Homo sapiens: one gene and its partners. The protein of the gene in region 4 purifies or fractionates together with the protein of the main gene of each other region. This does not show direct contact. Each region holds a gene or a part of one and is shown on either strand. Other genes may lie near its edges.

What was found.
Region 1: the proteins of PRSS37 (region 4) and MANBA purify together in Homo sapiens (affinity purification with mass spectrometry; 2 studies listed by BioGRID and IntAct, with this or other methods). This does not show direct contact.
Region 2: the proteins of PRSS37 (region 4) and LRP5 purify together in Homo sapiens (affinity purification with mass spectrometry; 2 studies listed by BioGRID and IntAct, with this or other methods). This does not show direct contact.
Region 3: the proteins of PRSS37 (region 4) and PCDH20 purify together in Homo sapiens (affinity purification with mass spectrometry; 2 studies listed by BioGRID and IntAct, with this or other methods). This does not show direct contact.

The regions. Positions count from the first base shown.
Region 1 is NC_000004.12:102,687,779-102,695,029, reverse strand, and holds part of MANBA (beta-mannosidase precursor), read left to right. Parts: intron 1-4,258; coding exon 4,259-4,434; intron 4,435-5,345; coding exon 5,346-5,456; intron 5,457-7,251.
Region 2 is NC_000011.10:68,406,340-68,413,590, reverse strand, and holds part of LRP5 (low-density lipoprotein receptor-related protein 5 isoform 1 precursor), read right to left. Parts: intron 7,068-7,251; coding exon 6,778-7,067; intron 3,678-6,777; coding exon 3,451-3,677; intron 2,156-3,450; coding exon 1,971-2,155; intron 512-1,970; exon of another isoform or gene 331-511; coding exon of another isoform or gene 288-330; intron 1-287. UniProt on the Homo sapiens protein: Acts as a coreceptor with members of the frizzled family of seven-transmembrane spanning receptors to transduce signal by Wnt proteins.
Region 3 is NC_000013.11:61,412,633-61,419,878, forward strand, and holds the start of PCDH20 (protocadherin-20 precursor), read right to left. Parts: upstream 3,218-7,246; 5' UTR 2,527-3,217; coding exon 2,395-2,526; intron 1,335-2,394; coding exon 1-1,334. UniProt on the Homo sapiens protein: Potential calcium-dependent cell-adhesion protein.
Region 4 is NC_000007.14:141,838,448-141,846,198, forward strand, and holds the start of PRSS37 (probable inactive serine protease 37 isoform 1 precursor), read right to left. Parts: upstream 3,039-7,751; 5' UTR 2,603-3,038; coding exon 2,569-2,602; intron 1,903-2,568; exon of another isoform or gene 1,818-1,902; intron 1,033-1,817; coding exon 891-1,032; intron 558-890; exon of another isoform or gene 489-557; intron 1-488. UniProt on the Homo sapiens protein: Plays a role in male fertility. May have a role in sperm migration or binding to zona-intact eggs. Involved in the activation of the proacrosin/acrosin system.

The DNA of each region.
Region 1 (7,251 bases), on a different chromosome or scaffold from region 4:
TCTTTTTTTAAAGAACACTCACTGAGTCATCTCTGGGAAAACCTTAAAGCGAATTAGTGGCCAGAACCACATTCTCTACCATCCTCTGGGTTGCCTTCCTGATTGAGGTTATATGAACAAACTGTAGAACATAATCTCTTCTGCTTGGGCTTAGGACATCAGCGAGGACACCAATAAGCCTTCAGGCCAGGGAGGGCCTCAAGGCCTTGAATTGTGGAGAGGGCAGGCCAGCATTGCCTTTGCACCTGTTTTGATAAAGAATTCCTGTCCTCTTTGTGCTGAGTTGTTTAGTCAAAGTGAAGAGAGGATGCAGAACTTGGTGGTGTGATTGGAAGGATGAGCTCTGTAGGGGATTCTAGAAGATGTAGCAATCCTTCTTTCCTGCCCTCACCCCCAGTACTTCATCCATTTTTGAAGTGATCTTGCATTTTACTTCAGGAGAGCTGGTGATGATAAGTGTTCTTCAAGACATGGTGACTTATTAATGCTAGGAGAGAGATGATAGGAAGCTGTATTCTAGAAATGGGGCTTAATTTATAAGATGGAGTTCTTCTTAACTACAAATAGGATTATGCAATTTATAAATTTAATTTAGCAAGTGAAAAGGAGTGACCAAAGAACATCAGGAAAACTACTGGTTATTTAAGACTTTGCGCCTTGTGAACCTAAATTACCTACTTTTCCATGTGCTACTGGAAGGAAGGGGTTTACTCTATTTGAAAGAAGAGGAGAGGGGAAAAATATGTTATTAAGTATATCTGGTGATAACTTTGTAGGCTTGTAGATCTTCATACTGTGTTTTTAATTCTACAACCTTAGTTTTTTCATTTAGTAGTTCCCAGGGGTGTTAACGGGTGATGCTCTGGAGGAGTGCGGACTTGCTCGAGAACCTTCCAAGTTCAAAGCAAGAGAAACTGGGGAATTTTGCCGATGACCTTTGAGGATTGCATTATTTGTTTTCCTGTCAGAGGCTGTCACTAACAGCTGATTCTCCTACTAAAGAAGAAGTAACAGAAAACAACACAGGAGCCTGCTTCGTTGGTAGGAGGTGCTCAAAGGACAGAGCTAAAATCTTTAGTTGGATATTAAGGAGAAGTATATTTCAAATTCAGTGTAAAGGGAGTCTTTACAATAGCCAAGCCTGGCAAAAATGGGAAGGCTATTTTGTGAGGCAGAGGTTTTTTTGTCATTAGAGATATTTAAAGAAAGGTTGGAATGGCCTTTTTTGGGGGTAATATTCTAGGGCAGGGATTAGCAAACTTTTTCTCTTAAGGATCACATAGTAAAATAGTTTAGGCATCTGTCACAACTACTCAACTCTACTGTTGTATTGCAAAGGTAACCAAAGACAATAAGTAAACAAATGAGCATGACTATTAAGTTAGTCTGCTCTGGCTGCCCTAAGAAAATACCATAGGCAGAGTGGCTTAAATAACAGAAGTTTATTTCTCGTAGTTCTGGCAGCTGGGAAGTCCGAGATAAAGGTGTTGGCCCATTTGGTTTCCAGTGAGGGCTCGTTTCCTGGCTTGCAGACAGATGCCTTCTTGCTATGTCCTCACATAGTAGAGAGAGAGACGGATATCTGTTTCTTCCTCTTCTTATAAGGCTGCAATCCTAACAGATTACTGCCCCACCCTTATTACTTCATAAAAAGCTGGAGGTTAGGGCTTCAACATAAGAATTTTAGGGGAAGAGTCCACCATTTAGTCCATAACATCTGTGTTCCAATAAAAGTTTATTTATAAAAACAAGAGGTGGGCTAGATTTGTCCCAAAGACCATAGTTTGACAACCTATTGAATAGAGGAAATTAAACACTGGTGAGCGAGCAGACTAGGTGATCTACCAGCTGATAGATTCAAAACCTGGAGGCTATCGGTAAGTAACCTGCAAAATTAACTGGATCAGAACAAACCTAACTCAGAGCTCATCGACTAGTATTTCTCAGAATAAATCACTTAATAAACAAAAATAGTTCTTAAGTCCAGGATTAATTTTACTTCAATGTGCATCAAATCTATGCTTTTGGCTGATGGGAGATGCGAATGATAAACTGTGCTGGGGTCATCTTTAGAACAGGCCTGGTGTGCTCCTACAGTTGTAAACAGTGCCGGTTATAACGTCTTTTGTCATTGATCAGCATAGAAACCTAGCTTTTTTTTTTTTCTTTTGCAGCAAAGCCATGATTATTAATCTCTTCTTTATTTGTAGGAGAAAGGTCTCTAAGATACTTCTCAGCTAGTAGCCTTCCCCCTCCCCTTCCTTTGGAGAAAAATAGAAGCCACTAAATAGGAACTCCCTCCATACTTTGCCACGAATCATAGAAACTTAAATGCCTCTGCACAGTCACTGCTCTTCTCCTTTCTTTCTGTGGCAGCAAAGAATGAGAACTTTTTTTGCTGACTCTAACCCCCTGTACCTCCAAGCTTTTTTGAGATCTCATGACCAGTTTCTTCTGCGTAACTTTAAAAAACGGTCTGTTTTTCCACCCAGCTCTTGTCCCAAGTCTGTCCCAGTGCTCTATCTTGTTTAAAAATAAAAACTAAACACAAAACCAAACCCGGAGACATTATACAAACAATATAAATTTGACAGGAAATGGAGGACAGAGTCATACTGCGCGTATATAAAACTCTACTTCAAAACCTCTTCGAAACATTCTGACAACCCCAAACTCTGCACCCAAAGTTCATCCCTCATCTTTCTTCTTTCCCTATAATTCTCCTCTTCGGTCTTGTTTTCTCTTCTTTCTGATCAACACTCTTCTTTGCCTCCTCTCTGTTCCTGGCTTTTCCAAGTGGCATTTTCTGGGGCTTTTTGTACACAGAGAGATTTTATATCTTTCTGCTTCTTTCATATTCATCCTTGTATATCACTGTGCTGGGACCTTTAGCAATTCTTATAAAATGCAGATCTGGTCATGCTCTTTGATGAAAAATCTTCAATGACTCCGCATTGATCTGGGGTGAAATTGCCAGACTCCTTACCTGTTCGAAAAGACCCAGTGTCATTTGGACCGTGCTCAACTTTTCAATTATGCTGACCCCCTCATCAATTTTGTTATTGCCCAAGTTCCTTGTTTTCCTTGTTATGGCATTGCTGTCTCACTCATGGGCCTTCACATGCTTCTCTGTGCCCAGAATCCTTATCATCTTCCTCTGTACTTAGCTGAGGCATCCTTCTGGTCTCAGCTAGATACCACTTTCTAATGAAAGCATTCCTTGGCCAGGCATGGTGGCTCATGCCTATAATCCCAGTGCTTTGGGAGGTAGAGGCTGGAGGATTGCTTGAGGCCAGGAGTTCAAGACTAACCTGGACAACAAAGTGAGACCTCATCTTTACAAAAAGTAAAAAGAAAATTAGCTAGGTGAGTGGCACATGCCTATAGTGCCAGCTGCTCAGAAGGCTGAGGCAGGAGGATTGCTTGAGCCCAGGAGTTCAAAGCTACAGTGAGCTATGATTGTGTGACTCCCGGGGCAACAGAGTGAGAACCTGTGTCAAAAAAAAAAAAAAAAAGGAAAAAGAAAAGAGAGAAAGCCTTCCTTCACCCTCTCTGTATTAGCTGTGCTTTCTGATGTCCTGTTTTTATTTCTCAGGACAACCTTTTATTTCTCCTGTCCTGATATTATTATGCTTTTGAATTTGTCTATAGACTTTTAGTTCATGAGAGTAGGGGCCATGTTTATCCTGGTCACCATTTAATTCCCATCACTTAGCAGAGTATATGGCACATAGAAAGTCCTCAGGAAATATTTATTGGATAAATTATCTACATTTAAAGTATAACTTTATTTTTTCACATTTGATTAATTTTAATACATATAAATTTATACCTTATTACATAACTTTAAAACCCATTTACATTATAAAGTAAAATACTATTACTTTTTACTTTATAAAGTATTTTTACTTAATTAAAAAGGAACAAATGTGTATTATTCTTGGAAAATTTATTTTATCTTTCCATTTGTCATTTTCTGTTTATGCTCCATAAAGTTTTTATGACTTACAATCATAACATTTTTAGAGTGGAAGTCTATGTAAAATATACCATTTTTGTTATTCTTCTTCAGAATGAAGGATTAAACTGAAGATTAAAAGAAAATTTCCACGAAGTTTTGATTATGACAGCATTGTGGAGCACATACTGGGTTTGAAGCTGCTTTAGTCTTACCTTCAATGAATCCTGAGAAATGCAGTGATAATGCTTAGCATATTATATATATATATATATATTTCTTTTTCTTTTTATATTTTAGATAAGAGTGCCCAGGAGTGGAATCTGGAAATAGAGTCTACATTTGATGTTGTCAGCTCAAAGCCAGTTGGTGGTCAAGTGATCGTAGCCATCCCTAAGTTGCAAACACAACAGACATACAGCATTGAACTTCAACCTGGGAAAAGGATTGTTGAGCTATTTGTGAACATTAGCAAGGTAAATGATGGTACTTCCTGAGAAGCACTGGATGAAAAGCAATACCTGTGCTAAAGAAATGATTAGAAAGGAGGGACTAAGTATGAAAGAAAATTCTACTTTCTCTGCTTATATTTGTCATTTTCTTCTCTATTTTAGTCTCTCATATATTTTCTGTGAGTATGAGCTAAAGAATGATTTTCCCAAACTTTAAGATTAAGAAAATAGAGAATATATTATTAATTTGGCAATTCTTTCTCTCATTTTATTTTTATCATTGTATTTTAATTTTCTGTAGTATTTGTAGTATCCTAAAGCCAAAATACATTCTATGGATTATATTTAAATAGCAGTGGTTATTTTTGATACTTGTCAATTATTTTGATTATTGATACTTATTCTACATGCACAATTTTAATTCTAAACTCATGATCTTTCATATATCAAGGTAGAACGGATTATTTTTATCTTTTCTTTTTCTTTTTTCTATTCCTCTAATTGATAATTGTGTACTGAAAAAGGTGGAGCAAAATAACATTCAGTAGCTGTTGAGATAAAGTAAGAACTCAAAATGATTTTTAGTTTTTGGCTTGAAAGAAGAGTCAACTTCAGAGTCCCATTTTAAGTGTTAAGAATGTGGAATAAATGTAAGCTCGGTGTTAGGGATAGGGAGAGTTGTTTTTCTGAACACTCATGTTATTCTGTTCTTTCCTTTTGCTTTTGATGTATTGATCCATGCTAGATTCCCAGCATGCTGATTTTTAAATATTATCAATGAATTGGTCTGATTGGGCATAATATAGGTGGGGAGACTTACATTGTTTTAGAACCTAGAGTTTTGTACTTGACTATTTGAGAAATTGATGTAATGCTTTGAGCCTTTTTTGCTGAAAATATGACATATTAGAGTGACTTTTAAATTTTCTTAAAAGAATATTACTGTAGAAACTTGGTGGCCTCATGGACATGGAAACCAGACTGGGTACAACATGACTGTTCTTTTTGAACTGGATGGAGGCTTAAATATTGAAAAATCAGCTAAGGTAAGTAAGTAATTTAAAATATTTTGTGAAATAATTTTATTTCTTTTAAAAATAGTAATACAGATCTTCATGGGAAAAGAAGAAACCGTCAAAACTCTTGTGTCCCCACCCATCAGAGATCATCTTTAGTAACAGCATTCAAAAGCTTCTCTCTCTGTGTGTGTATATATACATACATATATATACACACACACATATATATATATATATATATTTTTTTTTTTTGAGACAGAGTCTTGCTCTGTCACTCAGGCTGGAGTGCAATGGTGCAATCTTGGCTCACTGCAACCTCCACCTCCTGGGTTCAAGCAATTCTCCTGCCTCAGCCTCCCAAGTAGATGGGATTACAGGCACCCGCCACCACGCCCAGCTAACTTTTGTATTTTTAGTAGAGATGGGGTTTCACCATGTTGACCAGGCAGGTCTTGAATTCCTGATATCAAGTGATCTACTGCCTTGGCCTCCCAGAGTGCTGGGATTACGGGCGTGAGCCACTGCGCCCGGCCTTATATTTTTAAATGGATCATACTTTAGATATTATTTTGTCAATAAGTAGTCTCCTGCTATGATTTAAAATTGTACCTTATATCAAAATAATACATGTGTAATTTTAAAACTCAAATATTACTAGTAAGTTTATATGAAAAATAAGACCTCTTGCCCATCACTTCCTATTCTTACTTCCTACTCCCCAGAACCAACCATTTTTAACTTTTATTTATTTCCTCTGACATTCTTCTTCATTTTTCTGAATAAGGTGCTTCTACTGGTGTTTTCTGATTTTTCAGTTTTACCCATTTTAGGATATAGCACTAGGAATTGGAAAGAACTGCACTTTGTTATTTATTAGCTATAGGCTACTTACTTAATCTCAAAATATGTAAAATAGGGACAATAAGAACGAGATGGCTTGGATCTGGCTTATAAGAGTCATGGCATATAGTTAGTAGAAATGGTATTAACCCTCTTCAAAGATCTCCTCCTCTCCCAGACACCAGCTTCGGTGTTTACAGTTGGCTGGTGTCACCTCTTACATTTGGTATTTCCTCTCCTGTGGGCCAGACAACATGCTAAGGATGGAGATATGTCCTTCAGGAGTGCATTTTCTGTTTTTCTTTTGTTCAATCATGCTGTGTATTTTCTGAGACACTGTGAATGTGTGTGTGTGTGTGTGTGTGTGTGTGTGTAAGGGGGGAGGGGAGAGAGAGAAAGAGTGTGTATGTGTGTGTGAGAGGGGAAGAGAGTGTATGTGTGTTTGTGTGTGTGTGTGTGTGTGTGCGCGCGCACGCACACATGCACAGAGTTATGTACAGGGAGAACATCCTGGACCCGTCTTAAGGGCCAAAGCATTCACTCTTGTCGTACCCCTCTTGGCTGAGAGGATGTGTGCTGTCTCACACAGTGAGTTTGTTGTGTGTTGTTTTCATGAAAATGTAAAAAATAATGAGTCATTCCAACTTACTACAGAGAAAGAAGAGGAACTTCTGTCTTTTTCTAAGGGAAATAATTCTTTTACATTCAGGCTAATATGACTGTATTATTGTTCATTACACATAAAGATGCCAGCCTTTGAATCGAGCAGCAACAGGAGTTTGCTTTAAGGAGGATGTTTAACTGCCCCACACCTTGAGTTAATGCATGTGTGTGAAATGTGCTCTTTGGCTGTGGCTGCCGTAGAGTTGCTATTTTTTGAGGCTGATTCATTCAGTAAATACTTAGGGCACACCTACTGTGTTTTGGCTATTTTGCTAGGTGCTGGTGATAGAGCTGTGACTAAGACACTGTTTCTGTTTCT
Region 2 (7,251 bases), on a different chromosome or scaffold from region 4:
TAGCGACCACATGAATGCCTTAAAGTGTTTGGCCACCTTGGAAAACCAGCAAGATCCACTGAAGCGCAGGCAGGATCTAGCAAAATTAAGTGACCTGGCTACAGTCACACAGTTGCTAAGTGGCAGGGCCAGGATTACCACCCAGGCAGCGAGACTCCAGGTTCTTGTTCTCATCATGTCAGGCCTGGCTGTGCATCCTTCACTCCCACAGCAATGAGACCAGGCCTTCCATGTTATTAATCAAGCACTCAGTAAACATCCGGAGCGTTTAAGTCCAAAACACGTACCGAGGAGTGACGGCCAGGCTGCAATGCACATGGCCGCCCTCATTGGCAGGGTCACATGAGTTTCCAGGGCTTTTGCTGGTTTTCATCTGAGTCTGTCCTCACTCCGGGGTGATTAATGAGCTTAATCATTTCAGGCAACCACAGCTGTGCGGTGACTGGTTTCTCGCCTGGCAACAGGTTTGCATGCGGCCTGGATGAGCTGGGTCACGGGATGTGCTGCAGAGCTGGGTGACGGTCACGAAGTCACGTGCAAACCTTGCTACTGGCCTCACAAGTCAGGGTGCAGCCCACCCCCAGCGACAACCAGGACACGGGGTTCAACTGCCAGCTCTGCCTACGCAGTACCTGGGACAAGGCATTCAGCTGGTCGATGCCCCAGCCTCCTCATCTGTAAAATGGGCACAACCACACCCAGTGCAGATGGCGAGTAGGAGAGGCAGAGGTCAGAAGCCAAATTCTTGCTGCCCTTCCTGAGCGGTTCGACATGGCTGACGTGCTCAGAGGCTCTCCTAGGGCCAAGGTCACTGAAGGTCCCTTTGCCAGGGGACAAAAGTCAGGGCTGCCCAGGTGACCCTCTCCTCCCTTGTCTGCCCTCAAGCCAAGGGGTGCCTGGGGACTTGGAGCCTCAGAGCTTCTTTTTCTTCTTCTTTTTTTTTTTTTGGAGACGGTCTCACTCTATTGCCCAGGCTGGAGTGCAGTGGCATGATCACAGCTCACCACAACCTCAACCTCCTGGGCTCAAGCAATCCTCCCACCTGAGCCTCCCAAGTAGCTTGGACTACAGGCATGAACCACCATGCCCAGCTAATTTTTAAAAAATTTTTTTGTAGAGATGGCGTCTCACTACATTACCCAGGCTGATCTTGAACTCCTGGGCTCAAATCATCTGCCCGCCTTGGCCTCACAAAGTGCTGGGATTAGAGGTGTCAGCCACTGCACCTGGCCCTTCAGAGCTTCTGCCCCTGACCTTCTAGTCTCCCAACTTGGCAGGGGGGATGGGGGTTCCTTTGTTAAGCACAGTTGCCCCTGTCACCTGCCATATCACCCAGGACAGCTAACTACTCTAGCAGAACAGAGTGTGCGGTCCCCTTTTCTGGGTTCAAATCCTGCTCCTGTTGCTGTGTGACTTGGGATAGGTTTTTTTCAAACTTCCCTGAGCCTCATTCTCATGATCTGGAAAAAGGAGATGAGAGCACCAGCCCTGGGGTCCCGGGCGTGTGGACACTCCCAGCACAATCCCAGCACATGGTGGGGTTCAGGGCTGGGTGGGGATCGAGTGCTGGCCCTGGTATCTCTGGGGGATCCTGAACTCACCAGCTATGTGACCTAAGGCAAGTCATGTGCTCAGGCCTCAGCTTCCCCAGCAATGAAAACCACCATGTGTGTTAGGGTGAAATTAGAGTCCTGGCACAGGGATTAGCTGGGACCTAGTGCCCAGCAGGTGCACAGGAAACAGCTGTCACCAGAGCCTCTCCCGACATAACTGCAGCAAAGGCACCCAGGGGTGGACGGGGACAACTCCCACAGCAGAGGGTGAGGCTGCTGGGCAGTCGTGGGTGTGGCCACAGCTCCTGCCAGGTTGGGGAACTTGCAGGCCACAGGGTATGTGCGGCGAGGCTGGGAGGTGGCCAACGCCCGGCTGCCCCGCCCTCCATGACCAGAAGGCCCCAGCCCGGCCCTCACCCAGCATGTTGGACGACTCGATCATGTTGGTGTCCAGGTCGGTCCAGTAGAGGCGCTGGTCAGCGTAGTCAATGGTGAGGTCGTTGGCCCGGCCCACCTTGTCCACCAGCGTCATGCAGTTGGTCCCGTCCATGAAGGCCCGCACGATCCTCGGCTTGCCGCCCCACTCGGTCCAGTAGATGTAGCTGGAAGGCACAAGGGAGAAGGGCAGGCTCAGTGAGTCTGCTCTCACCGCAGGACAGTGGGTGGCGGGGGGACGCAACTGTCCCCACCTCTTCAGCTCAGCCCTCCCCGTCCTGGAGAAAGCCACGCGCAGGAAGCAGGGAAGGGCGAGACCCTCGACCCCTGCCACACACATATCCCTCCAGGGGTGGTCACTGCGCCACCTCCCTGAATTCCCACAGTGGCTCACTCGTAAGGCGAGTAAATACCCACTTACGGACACAAAAACAGATGCACAGACAGGGTGAGTGTGTGCTGGAACATCCACCTAAGCTTGGCCGGATGTTGGGGACACGGCAGAAACCAGGATGGACACAAGCACATCACAAAACAAGACCTCAGGGCAGGGGAGGCCTTGCGGGATCCGGATGTAAACTCGGCTCTGGGCTCCTCCCCCAGCAGCCCCTCCTTCCCTCTTCTTTTAGCAGATCCAGAAGAGGAAATGCACATCCTCATTCCAGAATTTTCTAAGTTTGACCTGCCCTTGCTCTAAAACCTGGACCTCTTTCTGTTGTCCTGCCATCCTGAAGTCTTCCTTCCTTCCCTAGCAGAACAGGCGACAGGCAGGGATTGGGCTGCTGCACACATCACAGGTGCTTTAAGGGGTGAGCACTGTGTCCACCACACAGAAAAGAAAACTCAAGTCCAGAAAGACGCCCCACACATCTGGGGCCTGTCTGAACCCCGTGCCCAAGGCAGGGCCCCCAGGACGCCTGGCAGCTCAAAGCACATTTGCCTCTCGAGGTGGGTCCTAAGCTGTGGCTCAGCAGCCTCCAAGAGGCCATTTCGGAGGAGCCTGAGGTCCGGGGACCTCAAAGTCAGTTCTGGATCATGGTTTTGGCAAGAGTGCAAAGCAAGGAGACCTGGTCAGGAGCCTGAGACAGCACTTCCTGGCCCAGCTCTGCTCTAACTGGGTATGTGACCTTAGGGAAGTCACTCGGTTTCTCTGAGCCTGTTTCTGCATCTGTAAAATCGACACAGATACCCACCCTACGCAGGCTCCATGGACACTTCGGTGAGACGGCCCAGGTGAAAGCAGCCAGCACTGTGCCTGATACAGCCTCAGCACCCGCTCCACGAAGGAACTCCATGACCTCTGAGGGCCCTACCAGTCCTGGCCACCATCAAGGCTAATGACGTCAGTACAGCTCTAATCACCGAGGGCCACACGGACAGCCTGCCACCTTGCCCAGTTGGCACCCCCGCACTGTCTCATACGAGGTGAACACAAGGACGCACGGGACAGGCAAACACTTACCCCTTGGTGGGATCCAGGGCCAGCGACCTCGGGTTGTCCAAGTCCCTCCACACGAGGACTTGCCGGAACTGCCCGTCCAGCCGCGCCACTTCGATTCTGTTGGTCCCAGTGTCGGCCCAGTAGAGGTTCTTGCCCATCCAGTCAACGGCCATGCCCTCGGGGTAGTCAAGGCCAAACTCCACCACGTGCTCCACCGAGCTCCCGTTCATGAAGGCGCGGCTGATGGTCTGGCAGCAGGTGAGGAGGAAAAGGGCCACATTTTAGGAACCAGCATCTTTTTTTTTTTTTTTGAGACGGAGTTTCGCTCTTCTTGCCCAGCCTGGAGTGCAATGGTGCGATCTCGGCTCACTGCAACCTCTGCCCCCTGGGTTCAAGCGATTCTCCAGCCTTAGCCTCCCAAGTAGGTGGGGATTACAGGCACATGCCACCACGCCTGGCTAATTTTTTTGTATTCTTAGTAGAGATGGGGTTTCACCAAGCTGGCAAGGCTGGTCTCGAAATCCAGACCTCAGTTGATCCACCTGCCTCAGCCTCCCAAAGTGCTGAGATTACAGGCGTGAGCCACCACGCCAGGCCAGAACCAGCGTGTTTTGTAGACATCTCCCGAGATGCTTGGCCACTGGCAGCAGCTACTGAACACATTCTGGACCAGATCACCAGCATTCAAGTTTTTAAATGAATGTTTGAAATGCAGCAAGACACCTTTTTGGAAAAAGCAACTTGGAGATTTTATATATATTTTATATAAAATAATATAAATGTGTATTTATAAATGTATATTATATATCATACATTAAAAAATATACATTACATATATTTTAAATATATACTTATAAGTATGTATTATATATTATTTATAAATATATATTTTTATATTATATATTTTATTATATATTATATAATATATATTTTATATTATATATTATATATTTACTTATAAATATAATTTATAAATTTTATTTATAAATATATATTTTTATATTATATATTATATATTTATAAATATATATTTTTATATTATGTGTGTGTGCGTGTATGTGTGTGTATATATATATATATATATATATTTTTTTTTTTTTTTTTTTTTTTCCCCAGATAAGTCTTGCTCTGTCGCTCAGGTTGGAGTACAGTGGAGTAATCTCAGGTCACTGCAGCATCAACCTCCTGGGGCTCAAGCAATCCTCCCAACTCAGCCTCCTTGGTGGCTGGGACTACAGCTATGCACCACTACGCCCGACTTATTAAAAAAGTTTTTTGTAGAGATGGGGTCTCACTATGTTGCCCAGGCCGGTCTCAAACTTCTGGGCTCAAGTGATCCTCCTGCCTCACCCTCTCAAAGTGTTGTGATTACAGGCATGAGCCACTGTGCCCGGCTGTAACCAGCACACGCAAAATAAAAGAACAGTTAAGCCTAAAAGCAAACATCTGTGCAGTGGAGTATTTCATACATTTAAAAGATTGTGCCAAAGAGTTTGTCACAGCGCCATCAAATACCTGTTGTAATGTCAAGTGAAAAAATCAGGATACAGAATTCTGCGTAGCATATGACTGTGATGAAGAGAAATGCTATCTTAGAGAAAAAAGACTTAAAGGCAATATGCTGAGGTGTCAGCAACGGTCGTCTCTGGCTGGAGAGGTTATGGACAATTTTTACTTTCTTTTTATACTTTCCTATATATATTTTTTTTTCTACAAAGAACCCTTGTGACTTAAAGTCATAAAAAATCTTTTAAAGCTATGTAATACAAACAGTAGAATAGGCTGGGCATGGTGGCTCACGCCTGTAATCCCAGCACTTTGGGAGGCTGAGGTGGGTGTTTGAGCCTAGGAGTTTGAAACCAGCCTGGGCAACATGCGGAAACCCTGTCTCCCCAAAAAAAAAAAAAAAAAAAAAAAAATCAGCCAGGAGTGGTGGTGTGTGCCTGTAGTCCCAGCTACTAGGGAGGCTGAGATGAGAGGATCACTAGAGCCCAGGAGGTCGAGGCTGCAGTGAGCTGAGATTACACCACTGCACTCCAGCCTGAGTGACAGAGGGAAACCCTATCTCAACAACAACAACAACAACAAAAAGCAGAAAACAAATCATAGAATAATAAATGAGCAAACATTGTAGTTGTCCAATACTTTAGAACAGAGGTCAGCACACTTTTTCTGTAAAGGGGCGGATGGCACATGTTTTAGGCTTTAGAGCCCATACAGATCTGTCACAACTCATCTCGGCAGAACAAAAGCTGCCACAGACAATCCATAAACAGATGCGCTTTGGTTACACCAATCAAACTTTTTTTTTTCTGAGACGGAGTTTCACTTTGGTTGCCCAGGCTGGAGTGCAATGGTGCCATCTCAGCTCACCACAACCTCCGCCTCCCAGGTTCAAGCAATTCTCCTGCTTCAGCCTCCTGAGTAGCTGCGATTACAGGCAGGCGCCGCCATGCCCGGTTAATTTTTTTTTTTGTATTTTTAGTAGAGACGGGGTTTCTCCACGTGGGTGAGGCTGGTCTCGAACTCCCGACCTCAGGTGATCTGCCCACCTCGGCCTCCCAAAGTGCTGGGATTACAGGTGTGAGCCACCGCACCCAGCCACCAATCAAACTTTCTTTACAGAATCAGAAGGCCAGCCCACAGACTAGTTTGCTAAACTCTTCTTTAGAAGGCAAAAAGTTTTCCTAGGCCGGGAACGGTGGCTCACACCTGTTATCTCAGCACTTTGGGAGGCCGAGGCGGGCAGATCACCTGAGGTCAGGAGTTCAAGACCAGCCTGGCCAACATGATGAAACCCTGTCTCTACTAAAAATATAAAAAAAATTAGCTGGGTGTGGTGGTGCATGTCTGTAGTCCCAGCTACTCAGGAGGCTGAGGCAGAAGAATCGCTTGAACCTGGGAGGCGGAGGTTGCAGTGAGCTGAGCTCACGCTACGGTACTCCAGCCTGGGCAACAGAGTAAGACTCTGTCTCAAAAAAAAAAAAAAAAAGTCTTCCTGTATTTGTCCTGGATGTTTACATTTGCACTATAAATGAAGAAAGAGTCTGCTGAGCAAACGGGCACCGACAAGGGAGTGGGTGGGGTGTCTGAAGTCAAGCTCAACGGACAACAAATATTTCACATTCACACAAGCATTTCACAAAAGCCCTTATGTGTGTCTACCGGACTTGCTCATTATAATCATCTTTTTTTTTTTAAATAGGCTTGCTCATATTTGATTAGCTTGAACTGCGTTACAATAAATACGATAGTGCTTTAAGAAAAGTGTCTGAAGCCTTTGAGGCAGGAACAGAGGCAAGGTTTTCCCATAAAGGCTGCCTGTGTGCACGTTCTGGCCCACGCTACCTTCAGGCTGACGTCTGTCCAGTAGATGTGGTTGTTGGACACATCAAAGTCCAGGGCTGAGGCCTCCTTGACGCCCGTGAGCGGGATGGCCACGTCGTTGTTATTGGTCTCGAGGGAGATCCTGTGGATGGCGGCTCTGCTGGTGAAGACCAAGAAGGCCTCAGGCACGATGCAGGTCTTCATGTCACTCAGCAGCTCCAGGCCGATGGGGCAGCCACACCGGGTTGCGTGGGGTGTGAAGAAGCACAGGTGGCTGCACCCCCCGTTCCTGTCCGCACACGGGTTGGTTCCTGGAAGCGAACACAGAGGCTCCAGTCTAAACATCAACAGCCCAGCAGGGAAAGGGGTGCGGCCAAGCCACACAATGAATGCTGCCGTGAGCCACACAGCTCAGGGGTGCCGAGCTCAGGACTCACCCCCGGGTCAGGTCCGACCTCATGGCTGGGTTGGCCAGGCTAAACCCTCAAACACACA
Region 3 (7,246 bases), on a different chromosome or scaffold from region 4:
AGTAAATATTCATTATTGTATGGTTTGTAAGGTGATAACCTAAACGGCCCTTCACCATCCAGGTAGCAGTTAACCTTGTATTTACCTTCTGGATCTCTTATGGTGAAAAACGCAATGGGAGTGTTAACGGGTTCCAGTTCTTTCAGATAAACCACACCATCTATCTCGTTTGCTATGTAACGAGGGACAATTTCAGGGGGTCTGAAAATAACTTTAATAATGGACACAAGAGCAGTGATTACAGCAGGGATGCAGCCTGGTCCATTAGCAAGGATGGTGAGCTTGTGGGACTCCAGAACACTTCCTCCAATCTTACTGAAAAGTTTAATGACTCCAGTGTTTTCATCCAGGTGAAATAAATCCTTAGATGCTTGTGGAACTTTCTGACTGTAAGAATAAGTAATTTGAGCATTGGTCCCCAAGTCTTTATCCACAGCCTGGACAGCTGCAATTGGGGTGCCCACTGTAGCATTCCCATACACAGTGACATTGATTTGTGAGTCTGTGAAGAGAGGGCAATTGTCATTAATGTCACTGATGCCAATGGTGAGAGTGGCACTGCCCAAAAGTGGTGGAGACCCACCATCCTCAGCTATGATGATGCTCACATACTGGTCCTGGGTTTCCCTGTCCAAAGCACCCATGACAATTAGGTAGGGGGTGCGCTCCCCATTCTCATTCTCCTCCACGTCCAGGGTGAACATACCATGGTAGTCCAGTAAGCGATAGGTCTGTACCCCATTAATGCCTACATCTGGGTCCACAGCAGGATGCTCTATGGCCAGTCGGGTGTTTACAGGTGCATTTTCCGGGACCCACACCGAGATCTGGGAAACAGGGAACTGCGGGGCGTTGTCATTGATGTCTCTGATGGCGATCTTCACCTTCACAAACCTGAAGTATTCCTGAGGCAGGACAAGCACATCCAGCAGCAAAAGACAAGAGTCAGAAGGAGAGGAGGAGATGGAAACGCTGCCGCTCCACGCAGTCCCTCCACCCCCTTCAACACACAGGGCCTCCCTGTCGATCTCCTGAGCTGAAGTGTGCAGCTCCCCAGAGCGGTTGTCTAGGGTCACGTACTGGCCACTCAGTCCCCGGGAGGCCAGGCTGAAGGAGAGAGGGGGGTTCCACTCAGCACCGGTGCGCTCTGGCAGCTGCGACTGCGGGTCCGGCCTCCCTGCAGACCTGGGCAGCAGCCGCAGGTCCTCGGCCAGGCTGCCGATGAGCACCCCCGCGGGTAGTCCCTCGTTTAGGCTGTACAGAAGCTCGGTGGCCCGGCTGTAACTCCCGAGGCAGCTGAAGGGTCCCACGAAGAGGAAAAACAGAAACAGATGCTGGAGTTGGGGGAGGGAAGAAAGCTCATTACACACACGGGGAAATAGGGGTCCGAGAGAGAAACTAGCGCCCCTGTGATCCTTGCTGTCCCCATCCCCGTTCCCAGAAGCAAAACCTCTAATTAGAACGGGGGCGGAGAAGAACCCTGCTGCGAAGGAGAGATCTGTGGGGCAATATCGTCTCCAAAACTTAATTTTGCTGTTCACTTTCTATCCCCTCCGCCCCCGCCTTCCCCCCTCGTTTCCCCATCACCACCCTCATCCAGCTAACATTCAGAATCCCAAACCGTAAAACATCCCTGGAAACACACACCGGAGTGGAGAGGATTCCGACTCAGAGACTGCGCAAAGCGACACGGAAACCCAGGGTAGGTGATGGGGAGGGAGGGGGCTGGTAGTAGAGAGCACTGAAAGGTGGGCAATTTATTTCTCCTTGAAGTGATTCTGCCATTAGAGTGCTGGAACACGCAGTGTGTTACATCCCTTACTAAGAGAACCATAAAAACAACCACAATCGCAATAATAATAATAATATAGAAAAAATACCAACACTTCCTCCTCCACCTCCAACACTTTAGGTCTTAGGTCGGAAAGAGTGATTTTTATTTTAGCACACATCTGAAATCAAACCGAAAGGATCTGGATTTCCACCCCTTACCAAGCAGTCACTAATCCCCCTCCCTTAGGGGGAAGCAAAGTAAACGCGGAAAATGGCTATGCAAAAACAATTTGTCAATTGCAGTAGGCATTCATAGCCAGACGCCAGCAGCAGGAAACGATCCCGAACCCCTGTAGCTAAAGCGGATTGAGCGCACCCCCGATGCCCTCGACCTTATCTGGATACATTTCTTGCTTCAGAAACTTCCTCTCATGACCCACGGACTTCCCTATTCCTTGTTAAAAGGAAGACACATTATCCCAAACTCCCTTTCCCTCCCGGCGCCATCCTTCCCGTGAAGTTTAGATAAAGGTAGAAGGTTTGAAAAACCATCCGAGTGGGAATTGCTTCACAATACTGCAACTTGTCGGGGTCGCGGGGTTCCTTGACCCTAACCCTTACCGGCAGGTTCCTGTAGCTGGTGCTGCTCCTGGGACGATGTAGACGCCCCATATCCAGGCGCGGGTGCCAGGTCGCCGGGCACCAGCTCACTCCCAGGGCCTGTGAGCTGCGCGCATTCCCTCGGCCGCGCATTCCCTGGGAGGCTGCAGTCAGAGCGCTCTTGAAGGGAGGGCGGCAGAAGACACTCCCTCTCGGTTCATGCAAATCGCTGGGGGAACTTCAGCCAATAGTCACTGGCTCTTCAATTAAGGACGGGAACTCAAAGAGTGGCAGAAAGGCAAGAGGGCAGAAGGGCACATTCATGGTTTCCTGCCCCGGACGCAGGTAACTCCATACTCTGCCAGAGGAGCTGGAATGGGGGACTTGCTCCTGAAGACTGCGAAGAGGCAGCTCGGGGTTGGGCACAGTAGCGCTTACCTACCAGCCTCCTTCCTTGCCGCACCAGTCAGATGCCAAGTCCACAGGTTGCTAGCAAGAGAGGGAGAATTAAAATAAATAAATAAGCTTGCATTTGTATATGGATGTAACAGAGAGAGGAAGTCGGCGCCACAGAGCAATCACAGGCGCGGTCCCAAAACGCCTGCTTTGCCAACAGTTCCTCCTGGAGCCTCGGATCCAGCAGTGTTGGCACAGAGAAAGAAAATGCACTTTTCTCAGCGGAGGGAAGGAATCTCAACTTCTGTGTAACGTAGGGTGAACCGGAAAAGTAAATATATGAATTCAGTGAAGGTTTCGACATACCCCAATTTTGAATCTTTGCTGTGGGCAGTGGTAGAGCTTCTGCTAGTTTCCTAGTTGGAGGCTCAAATGTCTCTGGGTGTTTGCCTTGTGGTCTTATTTTAGAGGCAGTAGTGGCTTCTGGATGCGGGGAAGAGCCAAGGGGAAAGTAGAAACAATTGTGCTGTAACACAAGTAGTTCTGCCTGCAAGTAATCTTAAACATATTTATCTAAGCGGTAAATTGGTGTGGGGAGGGGGAGGTATTCACTGAAGCCTAGGTAAAACATTGGTTATTTTTCAAATTAGTCCTTCCTTCCTTGTTTCCTTCCTTCCTTCTCTCCCCCCCTCCCCTCTTTCCCCTTCCCCCTTCCCTTCTTTCCTCTTCCCTGCTTCCTTCTTTCCTTCCCCCTTCTTTCCCTCCCCCTTTCCTCCTTCCTTCCTTTCCTTCCTTCCCCTTCCCCTCTTCCCCTTCCCCCCTTCCTTTCTTCCTTCCTTCCTCCCTCCCTCCCTTACTCCCTAGCTCCCTCGCTCCCTCACTCTCTCCCTCTTTCCCTGCCTCTCTCCCTTTCTCTCTCTCTTTCTTTCTCCTGGATTGCCTACTGGAAAACTGGTCCTTCATAAAGGAATTGTGGAAGAGTGTGGTGCCAAATGATTGCCTATCTTCTATGGCTTTGACACTGAATAGCTATGTAACCTGGAGTCACCTAACTCCTGGCCTTCTGTTTCCTCATTTATAAAATCAAGGCTAGTGGGATACTCCAGTGCATTAAGCCTCTGAAACACTTTTTGATCTGCAGGTTGCCATGTAAGTAATGGAAAAGCCCATGATTCGGCCTTTCCTTGAGAAGACATTTCTCTTCATCGCTAGGCTTCCAGATATCCTCTGCAGGGTCCTGAACATAAAACCTCACATGCTGAATGACCAGTGACTGAGCCTAGAGTGAAAAAAGGTCTTTGATACCTGATTTCCATATGCTTTCTGTAGGAACTACTTCAATTTTCCCCTTCCACCAAATGCTAACTAGAATATAAATTGCTTGGCTGAGCTAACTGTTTTGCTTCCTATCCTTCCTATTTTCTCCTCATTTCTAATAATCCTAAACACAGAGTCCTAAATATGGACAACACACTACATCAAAACACCTGGAGGGTAACAGCTTGTTATTGTGCAAATGGGGCTGTACATGGAGTTCACAAGTCTCTCTATAATACAAATTTGGCATACAATTTGAACCTGGCTGGTAAAATCAGTTCCTTCAAACCCTTTACAGTGAAAATGGAGCACTGATGAAGTGGTAAACCTCAGCCCCCAATCACCATCACCCCACCCCTCACCCCCCTACCCCTCTCCCACTCCACCTCCTCCCCACCCCACACACACACTCAAAGGAACATGCACATCTGAGTTGAAGGTTGGTAAACAAGCTGCAGCCAGGGAAGCATGATCTCCCTCCTTGTGCTTTTTAGCTGCTGGTTCTGCCCTACAGCTGAACTTTTGCCATATTAGTAAATATTTACTTTGAGGTCTGTAGTTGAAACATACTTGACTCCCCAAATCAGTACCAAGCTGCTTCTGAAACGTGTTTAACTTACATCTTTATACAATACCCACAGCTTCCCGAAGTTGGAGGCCCACGGCCAGAGTTAGGCAATCTGTCAGCAGTCAGAGAACCTGCAGTCTGCAACAATTCTCCCCCAGAGACAGAGCAGCAGAGTGGGCTGTTTATCCGCTCACAGCTCATGCCCTCTGCAACAAGTTAAGATCATCCACCTTTTTGGTGGAAACGTAGGGAGCTATTTTCTTCATTTTTCCTTTGTTATAAGGACATTGTACAGGAGCTGTTGTTTATGATGATAGTCCAGGTGAAGTGACATTTTCTCTTTGTAATTATATCTCAAGTTTTTACTTTTCCCTGGCCCCTTACTCTCCCTTTCCCTACTTTGCAGTGGTTGCTTGTAGTACAGATGCACTTCCTTTTTAAAGTGTTTCCCCCAGCCTACACCAGCAGAATCTTCGTCTTCTGACCCTATCACCCAGCTGGTCTCTGTGGAAAGGGTTATTACCACACCTCCCTTTATTAAGTTGAAAAGAAATTAAATATACCCATTTGGCCATAATTATTCTCTAGAGTGTTTCTAAAAACCATAAACATGAATTATAGCAAAAGTTCTTCATGTAAGTTGAAACACTAGTATTGAACACATCTTGAAAATAATGTTTGGAACGACACTAACAACCACATTTGCTTTAAGTGACTACGGTGATTGCAAAGTCCCTGCATGGAAGTTTGTCATCAAGATTGGGAGATCTTGGCATAATATTGAACAATACCTTCCACGTCGCATTTCAAACCATTCACTGAACTACTTGTTATTATCTTTCCTCTCTGAAAATCCAAAGGTTTTACACAATGTTTATACCCTAATTGGGCTTAAATAAAATAAAAAGGACTAAATAGACATCTTTCTTCCCATGTATCCCTTCTCTGGGCCTTGTGAAAGCATTCCCAAACTCTTATTCCTTATGATGCCAGCCTGCGACCTACCTTCTGGTGTCACATATTTCTAACGATGACTCAGAAAGCTTCTATGCTATTAGTCCCTTGAAAATAATACTTATGAACTTCTTAGACGTCTCAATTGCTCTGGGCCTGCTTCCCACATGTTTTGTAAAAATCGATCTAGAAGAATAGTTAGATTATATGCCTCCCAAGCCTATTTTTCCTATAGACAAGGAAAACAGCAGGATACAATAGACGGTGCACTGAGCTGAGCCAGAGGAGTGGATTACATTCTCTGGGTTGTTGCTAAGTTCTGTGTGACTTTAGACAAGTCATCAAACTTCTCTGTTTCAATTTCATAAAAAAAGACCCCTACACACTTCATGCACGTATATGCATGAAATTGCTTACCTCATATCTGGCATTAACAGACACTGCATGCTGATACACGGGTTAACTTGATTATTACTTATTGCATTCTATCACTAAAACATACTATTTTTCATTTACTGCAAGCCTTCTTTTTGTAATTTTATTATCTCCACTACAAAGATGTGAGCAAGATTATAAGTATATATCAAGATACCATCTTTGCCTGGGCGCGGTGGCTCACGCCTGAAATCCTAGCACTTTGGGAGGCTGAGGTGGGCGGATGGTCTGAGCTCAGGAGTTCAAGACCAGCCTGGGCAACATGGTGAAACCCCATCTCTACTAAAAATACAAAAAACAAACAAACAAACTAGCCGGGGCGTGGCAGCGTGCGCCTGTAGTCCCAGCTACTCTGGAGGCTGAGGCACGAGAATGGTGTGAACCCGGGAGGCAGAGCTTGCAGTGAGCCGAGATCGCACCACTGCACTCCAGCCTGGGCTACTGAGCGAGCGAGACTCCATCTCAAAAAAAAAAAAGATGAGGAAAAAAGATACCATCTGTAAACTTTTTACGTTTTAAATCTTTAAAAAAAATTTTTGAAGCACTATGCTTTACAGGTAGTTTTATTTGTATTTCTCAATTAAATCTATTTCCACTATTTAGATTAGTTTAATAATATTGTGGTATACACAAAGTTTCATGTAATCACTATATACACAGATATTTAAAACTATCTTGAACCATAACCGTGTACATGTTCTGGTTAATTCATAATTGCAAATAAATATAAGTTTAGAATATTACCTTATTTTAAGGCCATTTCTCTTTGTCTTAATAGAATTTTTAAAATTAGAAGTCCCTTTTGATGAATTAAAATATATGTACATGTGTACACAAAATATATTATTAATATATAGGTACATATGTAAAAGTGTAAAATATACCACATATAAATATAACATATAATAAATATATATACAATGAAATATTATATCTGTATTCTTTTTTGATTCAATCATCAAGGTTAAAAGGATGATTACATTTGAAAAACCAATAAAATACCTGAGAAATGATAGATTGGTTACCTAGTGTCAATTATGTTTCAAACATGCTACTAGGTGGTTGACATATGTAATTTAGTTAATCCTCACAGCAGTTTTATAATATAGTTATTATTATACCAGCTTTATAGCCATACATAACATGCTAGTCCAGAGCCTGATCTGTGACCTTCAAAATATGTGATCTTTCTACTCTGGTATG
Region 4 (7,751 bases):
GTGGAGACCAGAGAATAAATAACCTAGTTCTGGGTGTCTCCTGTTTGGTTCCCTAGCTGATGCACTAACAGTCCTATTCCATTCTGCTCTGCACCTTTGGAAGGGGACATATATGGATTTAATCAGTGGGCTCTCTTGTCCTCTGGCTTCCTTCTATTGGCCAATAGGAAGCACCAGAAAGTAACTGGAGGAAGAAGAGTGAGATTGGAGTACTTATCCTCCCAGGTCCCTCCCTGCAGTTTTGTCACAGAGTGGCTGTGCTCCTTGACTAGGGGTTACAATCCTTATCAGGCTGTCTCCTCACACAGGTCTCGCTTTTTCTCTATCTCTCCTTGCCTCCTTTGAAATTATCTTCTCCTCTTGCCTTTTTAGGCCTAGAGGTGGTAACTGCATTTTCTTAATACAAACCCTGGTGGTATGGAACTATTCTTAATATTGTCCCTTTAATGTCTCCATACCTTTGCAATTGGTTCCTTCTTAAAACTCACCTCAATTGACCCAATTTGAGTGCATCATCAGTTACCTGCTAGATCTTTAAGTGATAAAATGCATTCATACTGCCAGTAAAAAAAAAAAAAGAAAAAAACTTATGAGAGTCTGAGGAGGCATAACATGTAACACAGGGTTCCTCAACAGTGGCACTATTGCTGTTCTGGGCTGGACAAATCTTTATTGTGGGGACTGTGCTGTGAATTGTAGGATGTTAAACAGCATCTTTGCTCTAGCCTCTCCCCATTAGATGCCAATAGCACTGCCCCCTGGTTGTGACAACCAAAAATATCTTCAGACATTGCCAAGTGTACCCTGTAGAGAAGTTACCCTTATATGAGAACCACTGATCTAGAATGAACAGTAGCTGTTTTGGGGATGGGGATGCCCAAATACTCAACGGTAAATAGCAGTGAGCTGGGGCCAGCACCCAGCTGGGTTTGATGAGGACGCCCACACAGGGGTTGAAGTGAGACTTGAGGTACACCAAATAGGGAGCAGGGTCTTCTTTCTGAACAGATGAGTCAGCAAAGAAAAATGTCCCTGAGAAAATAATGAACATTCTTAATACATAAATATTATAAAAATAAGGTAACAGTCTCTTACTTGAAAAGGAATCTGGATGATTCTTAAACAGTTATCAGTTGGCCAAGAAGTGTTAACGTATTTGACATGTTTTTCTAATAAAAATGTAAATTAAAACGATATGCCATTTTATCTTATATTTATAATAATTTTGTTTAATATTGATAATATTCAATCTAAGAGAGTATAATGAGAGACACTCATCACTGCTAGTAAATTGATTCCATCTTCTTGAAAAGCAATTTAGAAACAGGCATCAAGAATCATAAATTGTTTATAACCTGTGACCTAATCATTCCAACCCCAAGAATCCATTCTAAAGAAAAAAATCAGATATAGACAAGGATTACAAACAAGTATGCTCATGTTAGCTATAACAGCTGAACACTGGAAACATAAATATCTGACATAGTAATGTTGGACATTGAAGCACATCAAAAAGTGGAACATCATATATAATAAAAATTAAACTAATTAGAATATTAAACAGCAAAAGAATATTAATGCTTATTTAAGTTAAAAAGAACAAGAAAATTGTGGATATAATCTATTTGTCTAAAAACAAATAAATAAAAACATTTAAATGCAAAAAATATATAGATTCTGAGAGTAAACTCAAAGTGTTAGCATGTGTTGACTAAGAGGTGGGATTATGAATGATGCTTATTTTTCTACTTTAAAAATGTCTAAATTTTGTAATATGAACATATATTGTTTTTATAAATGAATTATTTAAAACATACCCTAGAGAATAAAGGGGAGGAAGGCTGATTCTAGTATCAGAAATAAAGCCCTCTTCTTGTCTTGGCTTCTCTTGCTACTCCTGTTAACCTTCCCCAAGACTGGGTCTGTACCTCACCACACCCTTCTGTGTGATCACACAGTTAGAAACCCCAAAGAGAAAAGGGTAGACTGTAAACAAGGGCAAGAGACATTGAGCTCTCTATAGCAGGCATTGTTCTAAGTGCTTTACATAGATTTATTTAATCTTCACAATAGCTCTATAATATGGGTAGTCATACCCCCATTTTGAAGAAATTGAAGCACAGAAGAGTTAATTAACTTGGCTAATCTCACACAGCTAATGTGTGATACAACCTAGGCAGTCAGAGAATGGTGGGAAATGCCTCATCTGCAAATTCTGCTGTCAGAAGAACCCCATGTGGGGCAAGGACTACAGAAGGTAGGGTCCTAGTACTTGATCTTTTGTTTCTACTTCTCTGTTTTCTGCATTAGTGTCGGTGGGAGGACACTCACTGTTAAGCCTTCTCCAAGGCACATGTGTGCCTTAACCCACCCTATAGCTTAACACTAGAAAAGTGGGCTCAGCCTATCCGGAGAGCCTTTGGATGGAGTCTGAGAGGCAGGACTCCTAATTCTGCTGATGACACTATTTTTGACTCTTTTTCTGCACCCTTCGCAATCCTGCCTCTGTCTCACCCCATCCATTAAACTGTGCCTTACAGGACAGAGTACAAGGTCTTGAGTACATACCAGCGAGGACACCCAAATAGAAGACATATTTCATGGTGATCCAGCTCTTCCCCCTGTGAGATGTAGAAGAAAATCAGCAGAGTGTGGAGCGGTTGGCTTAGTTGTCTTCTCAGGAACACCTGGTAGACTCAGTGGCTATGGTTAGATACGGAGGCACTCCATGGGATTGGAAAGCAGCTCTGGGCATAAACAGGGGAGGGAGATGGCTTCAGAGAGACAGATGAAAGCCCTCTGTTCCAGGGAAGGTGGAGGACTGTGCCTCTGTTGGGGCATTTCAGGGAAGGAAACTCCTGGATTCAGCTCCTTCTATCTGCTGCCCCTAAAAACACATCTGTTTGAAGGTAGTTCAGTTGTCTGTGGAAATGGCAGCTCTAGGCTCAGGACTTATCTTCCCCACAGAGTTTCTGAGACCAGGGCTATGAGGGACAATATTCTTTACCTTAGCTCAGGGAGTAAGTGTCCTGAGGTTTGCTCTGAACCTCCTAATAGTTACTTATACTTTCCCCAGCCCCTCCCATCTTTGTTACACTAGCTTCATATGTCCCTCTGATCACTGTTTCATCACTCAGTCATCATCACCAACTTGGTGTTTTTTGTCCTGAGCAACAGCATTGAGCCAAGAAAATATGGAAATGAAAAGCATTCATAGAACAGTTATCTTGATAGTTGGGGAATTGTTTACAGTCTAGATGACATTAGGCCTGGTGACAATTCAGAAGGCAGTACCTCTAATACTTAAAGACTTAGACCAATATTAGACTACCAAAGTCATCCTTGGATAATTGGGAGCATAGTCTAACAAGAAAATGAGCGGTAACACTAATAGCTGATATCCTCTAAGCATTTACTGAATCCTAGGCACTGAGCTAAGATCTTTACGGACTTGTCAGTAGAGATTTTATATCAGGTTAGTCTGAGATGTAAAATTCACTACACTTTGTATCACTCTAACCCTTTAAAGTTTCTTAAACCCATAATCTCTTTCCAAATGTCACAACAACCCTAGAAAGAAGAGATAGGGCTGGGTCTGGTATCTATTTCTGGTCTGTGGGTGGCAGAACTGAAGCAGAGAGAATCTAAGTAGTTTTCCCAAAGTCACATGTCGTGGACAATGAGAAATAGGCCTTGTCACTGGTGTAGGGTTGCAGGTCCCCCACCAGGATACTTAAGGGTGTATGACCACTGCTTGAACCTTAATGGCTAAGTAGTGAGTCAAGGACACGGTGCCCAGCCAAGAAGCAGGTATCCTTGATGGCCAAGTGGTGAGTCAACGCCATGGTGTCCAGCTGAGGAGCAGGTGTCCTTGAGTACCCAAACATCCCAGAGAATACCTGAGAACCTATCAAGGAAAACAGTCCCATCATGCACACACAGTAGGCAAAGAGCCAGAAAATTAGCTTAAAAGCAGCTTAGAGATGGAAAGCAGGGCAGGTCTCTAAAGGTGTCCTCTGCTATCTAGGAGTGTCTCATATGTAAGTCCTAATAAACTTATCCACTGGCCAAGCTGGACTTGTCTGAGTCATTCTTTGGTCTCTTGGCTCCCTCCTAGTTTGGGGGAAAGGTTTTTTTAAAAATATGATTCTGGATTTTTCTTGTTACAATTGGCATCACAAATGGGGTCAGAGAGACCAAACTTCGAGCCAGGAATGAGTGTCTATGGTGGGGAATCCCTGGGCAGTCGGCAATGTCCATGTGGAGTGGAGTTGCCCAACTGCACAACTTTTGTGGGCCACTGCATGAGTACAGGGATGCTTGGAAAACATGGGCAAGGACTGAATACCTATTGCCAAGAAGCCAAGATATTAAAGTATGATAATGATAGTAAATGTGGTGTTATTGCAATAAGGCTGGCTAATCACAAATCATTAGAGCAGGAAAGGGAGAAAGGGTAGAAACTCCAGCAGAAGCTAAAAGGCATGGTTTTCTAATCCTCCAGCTGGTTACATATTATGGCCCTTTCTTGTGTACATTTTAAAACTGACGGGCAAATTACAACAAGAAAAATTCAGAGCTCAAATGTTTAATCTACAACTATAGAGTTAAGTAGAGTCTTCTAAAGCTCTCTATTTCTCTTTCCTTTTCTGCCTGCTTTGAATCTACTGTTAATAAGTTACTGGTATTGAGATAAAACTCACTAATTCAAGGTCAATTTGAGATTTTTTTTTTCCTCATATGGTTCAGCCAGTTCTAGCTAAAATGTAAAGAATTAAACTCATTTGGAACTGAAAAAAAATGGATAAAGGAGGTTTTTAAAAATCAAACTGCCATAGAAACTGCTTTACCCAAATTATTGATCCACTGCTTTCCTTGGGTTACCTATTGGGGCAAATAAAGTTTAGCCATGTGAACAGGTCCCAATTTTATCAAAAATAATCTGGATCCAGCTGTCTTTTATATAGTAATGAGTTTGTGAAGCTAGAATTCCAAAAGCTATTGGTAAAAGCTATCGGATCTTGCATGTATATGTATAAACATGTTTAAATGTGTTATGTGTATGTGCATGTATTATGCTATGTGTTATATCTAGCATGGTACCGAATAGCTTATAAGTAAATACGTACTCATAAATTAAATAAGTCCAGATGCTCTTCAGGTTCACGTGAATTCAATAATCTTTGGTGAATAAGCTGGCTTCAAAATTTTTGATAAAATAAAAGTAGAAATGTCTTCAAAAGTGTCAGCATACATTTTTGTCTGAGTTTCTTGATTAGATAAGTTGTATATTTGCCCCTCCTAGATAGTTTAAGGTGTCAGGTTTCTGACATGAAGGTTCTAAGACTATAAATCCACCCAAAACAGAATGATCTTTGTGTGATTTTTTTGATAAGCAAGATTAATTTGATATTGTCAGTTTAATTAAAACAGCTGAATTTTCTGAGTTATTGGTAAAAATGCTTATGTCTTTAAGTTTCTTGATTAGACGAACATCTGATATTTATAAGCCATTAAAATGGTTAACAGGGAAATAACTCGTAATGATTATTAGCTTTGTCTAATAAGTCTAATGAGCTTTCGTTCTCATGAGTAATCCAGATAAACCACTAAAAATGAATAAATTCAGTAAATGTAAATGAGATAAACATAGGTAAAACTTTTTGTGTAGTTTAAAATCTTAAAATTATTTTAGCTACTCATTGAATGTCTGGGTCATTTCCAGTTTAGAAAGGGTTATGATATGAGACATTGGTTGCAGTTCTTTTGCCATTTAGTGGAAAATGGAATCTATGATATGGGGGAAGCATTGGTGGATCTCAGTGGGCTGGATAAGAGCAAGGACTAAATTCAGAAAGTAATCACTTGTCCCAGCACAGGCAGGCAGTGAATGTAAAACAATACTGCCTGCCAGGGGCACACTCTGAAATCATCAGAACAATTTAGGCATTCCATAAGGTACAAATAGGCTGGCCCAGAGCCCCTGTAACAGCCCTGGGTAGCCTGTGAAGACACCAGATGGCACCTGCAAAATGTTGGCAGGCTACCATGAGCTAAACAAAGTGTTGCTCCCTGTATATGCAGCTGCTGAACTACTAGAACAAGTGGTCCTCAAGCTGGGAAATGTCCATCCTGTGACTGACTTGTCTAATGGCTTTTCCAGTATCCCTTTAGCAGAAGATTCACAAGGTCAGTTTGTCTTCACTTAGGAGGGCCAACAATGGACTTTCCAGGTGCTAACACAAGGGTACCTGCACAGCTCCACCATCTGTCACAGCATGGTTGCATGGAACCTGTCTAGGCCCTGTTTGCCTGCCTCAATCTCCCTGTTTCACTATATTAATGATATCATGCTAACCTCAGAGTCTCTTACAGATCTGGAGACTGCTCTACAAACTGTCTTGGATACCCTAAAAGACAGGTGATGAGAAGTCAGCCCCCAAAAGATAAAGGAGCCTGGCATAACTGTCAAGTTCCTGAGAGTTACCTGGTAGGGTAAGACGTGAAACATAAGCTAGCACAGCAGCCTGTTCCCTAGATGGTAAACTAACACCAGGTGTTCTTAGGTTTACTGGGCTACTGGAGAATATTGATTCCTCATCTGGCACAAACCCTCTGCCCATTATACACCCTCATAAAGAAAAATAAACAATGGGACTGGACATACATGGAGCAAGAGGCATCTGACAAGACAAAAATATTGGTGAAACAAGTGCAAGCAATAGGGTCCCCACTGCCACAGCACCCTTTTGTGTTAGAATTCACTAAAGATGCCATGGGGATGATTTGGGGTTTGTGATAAAAGCAACCAATGTGAATGGTACCTGTAGGATTTTGGTCTCAATTATGAAAGAGTGCAGGACCTACTGTATAGTCCTCGAGCAACAGCTGTTGGCCATGTATAGGGCATTGCATGAAGTGGAGGCCATCACCAGGAAGCAGACTATCACACTAAAAACTGCCTACACCATAAAAGGATGAATGGAAGGCCTTGTAGCCAACACCATCTCTGGGGTAGCACAGTCACACACCCTACAAAAATGGCACACCTATCTGCAACAGAGGGGTGTCTCATCCACTAGTCTTTTAAGTCAAGCACTACAGGAGGTGCTCAGACCCATCCACTTTGAACAACTGGAGGGGTTTGACATGACAGTGGGGCCACCTACTACGCCAATCACTGTATATAAGGGGACCCTGCCCGTAACTGCTAGGACCTGCTACACTGGTGGGTTTAACAAAGGCAGCCAGCACCAATGGTCAACAGTTGTAGCGCAAATGAACCTTGATACCTTATGGATAGAATAGGGATTAGGACAAAACATTCAGTGGGTCAAGCTATGGGCAGTTTGGATACTCATCACCCACAAGCCCTGGTCACTAGTCACTTGGACAGAGTTAGGCTACATACAGAGGCCTTACCATGTGGATCAATCAATGGACTGCAGAAAATCAACAGGTTTTGGGCAGGCCCATTTGGGGAATGTCCATGTGGCAGGATGTTCACCTCAGGTTACAAGAGAACGATGTGCATCTGATGGTGTATCAGGTAGATGCACACAGCCCCAAGTCACCTCCCAGAAATCATGAGGCAGACACCTTACTCATGTTCAGGCAATTTACCCTAGCCCATTGGAGGAGGATGCCATGTGGATACCTCATAAGAGTGGCCACCAGTGGGTGGCTATAGGGTGGGTCATAGCAAAGGCAGCAGGCATCCCTTTCCAAATGCAGATGTTCTGGCAGCTGTT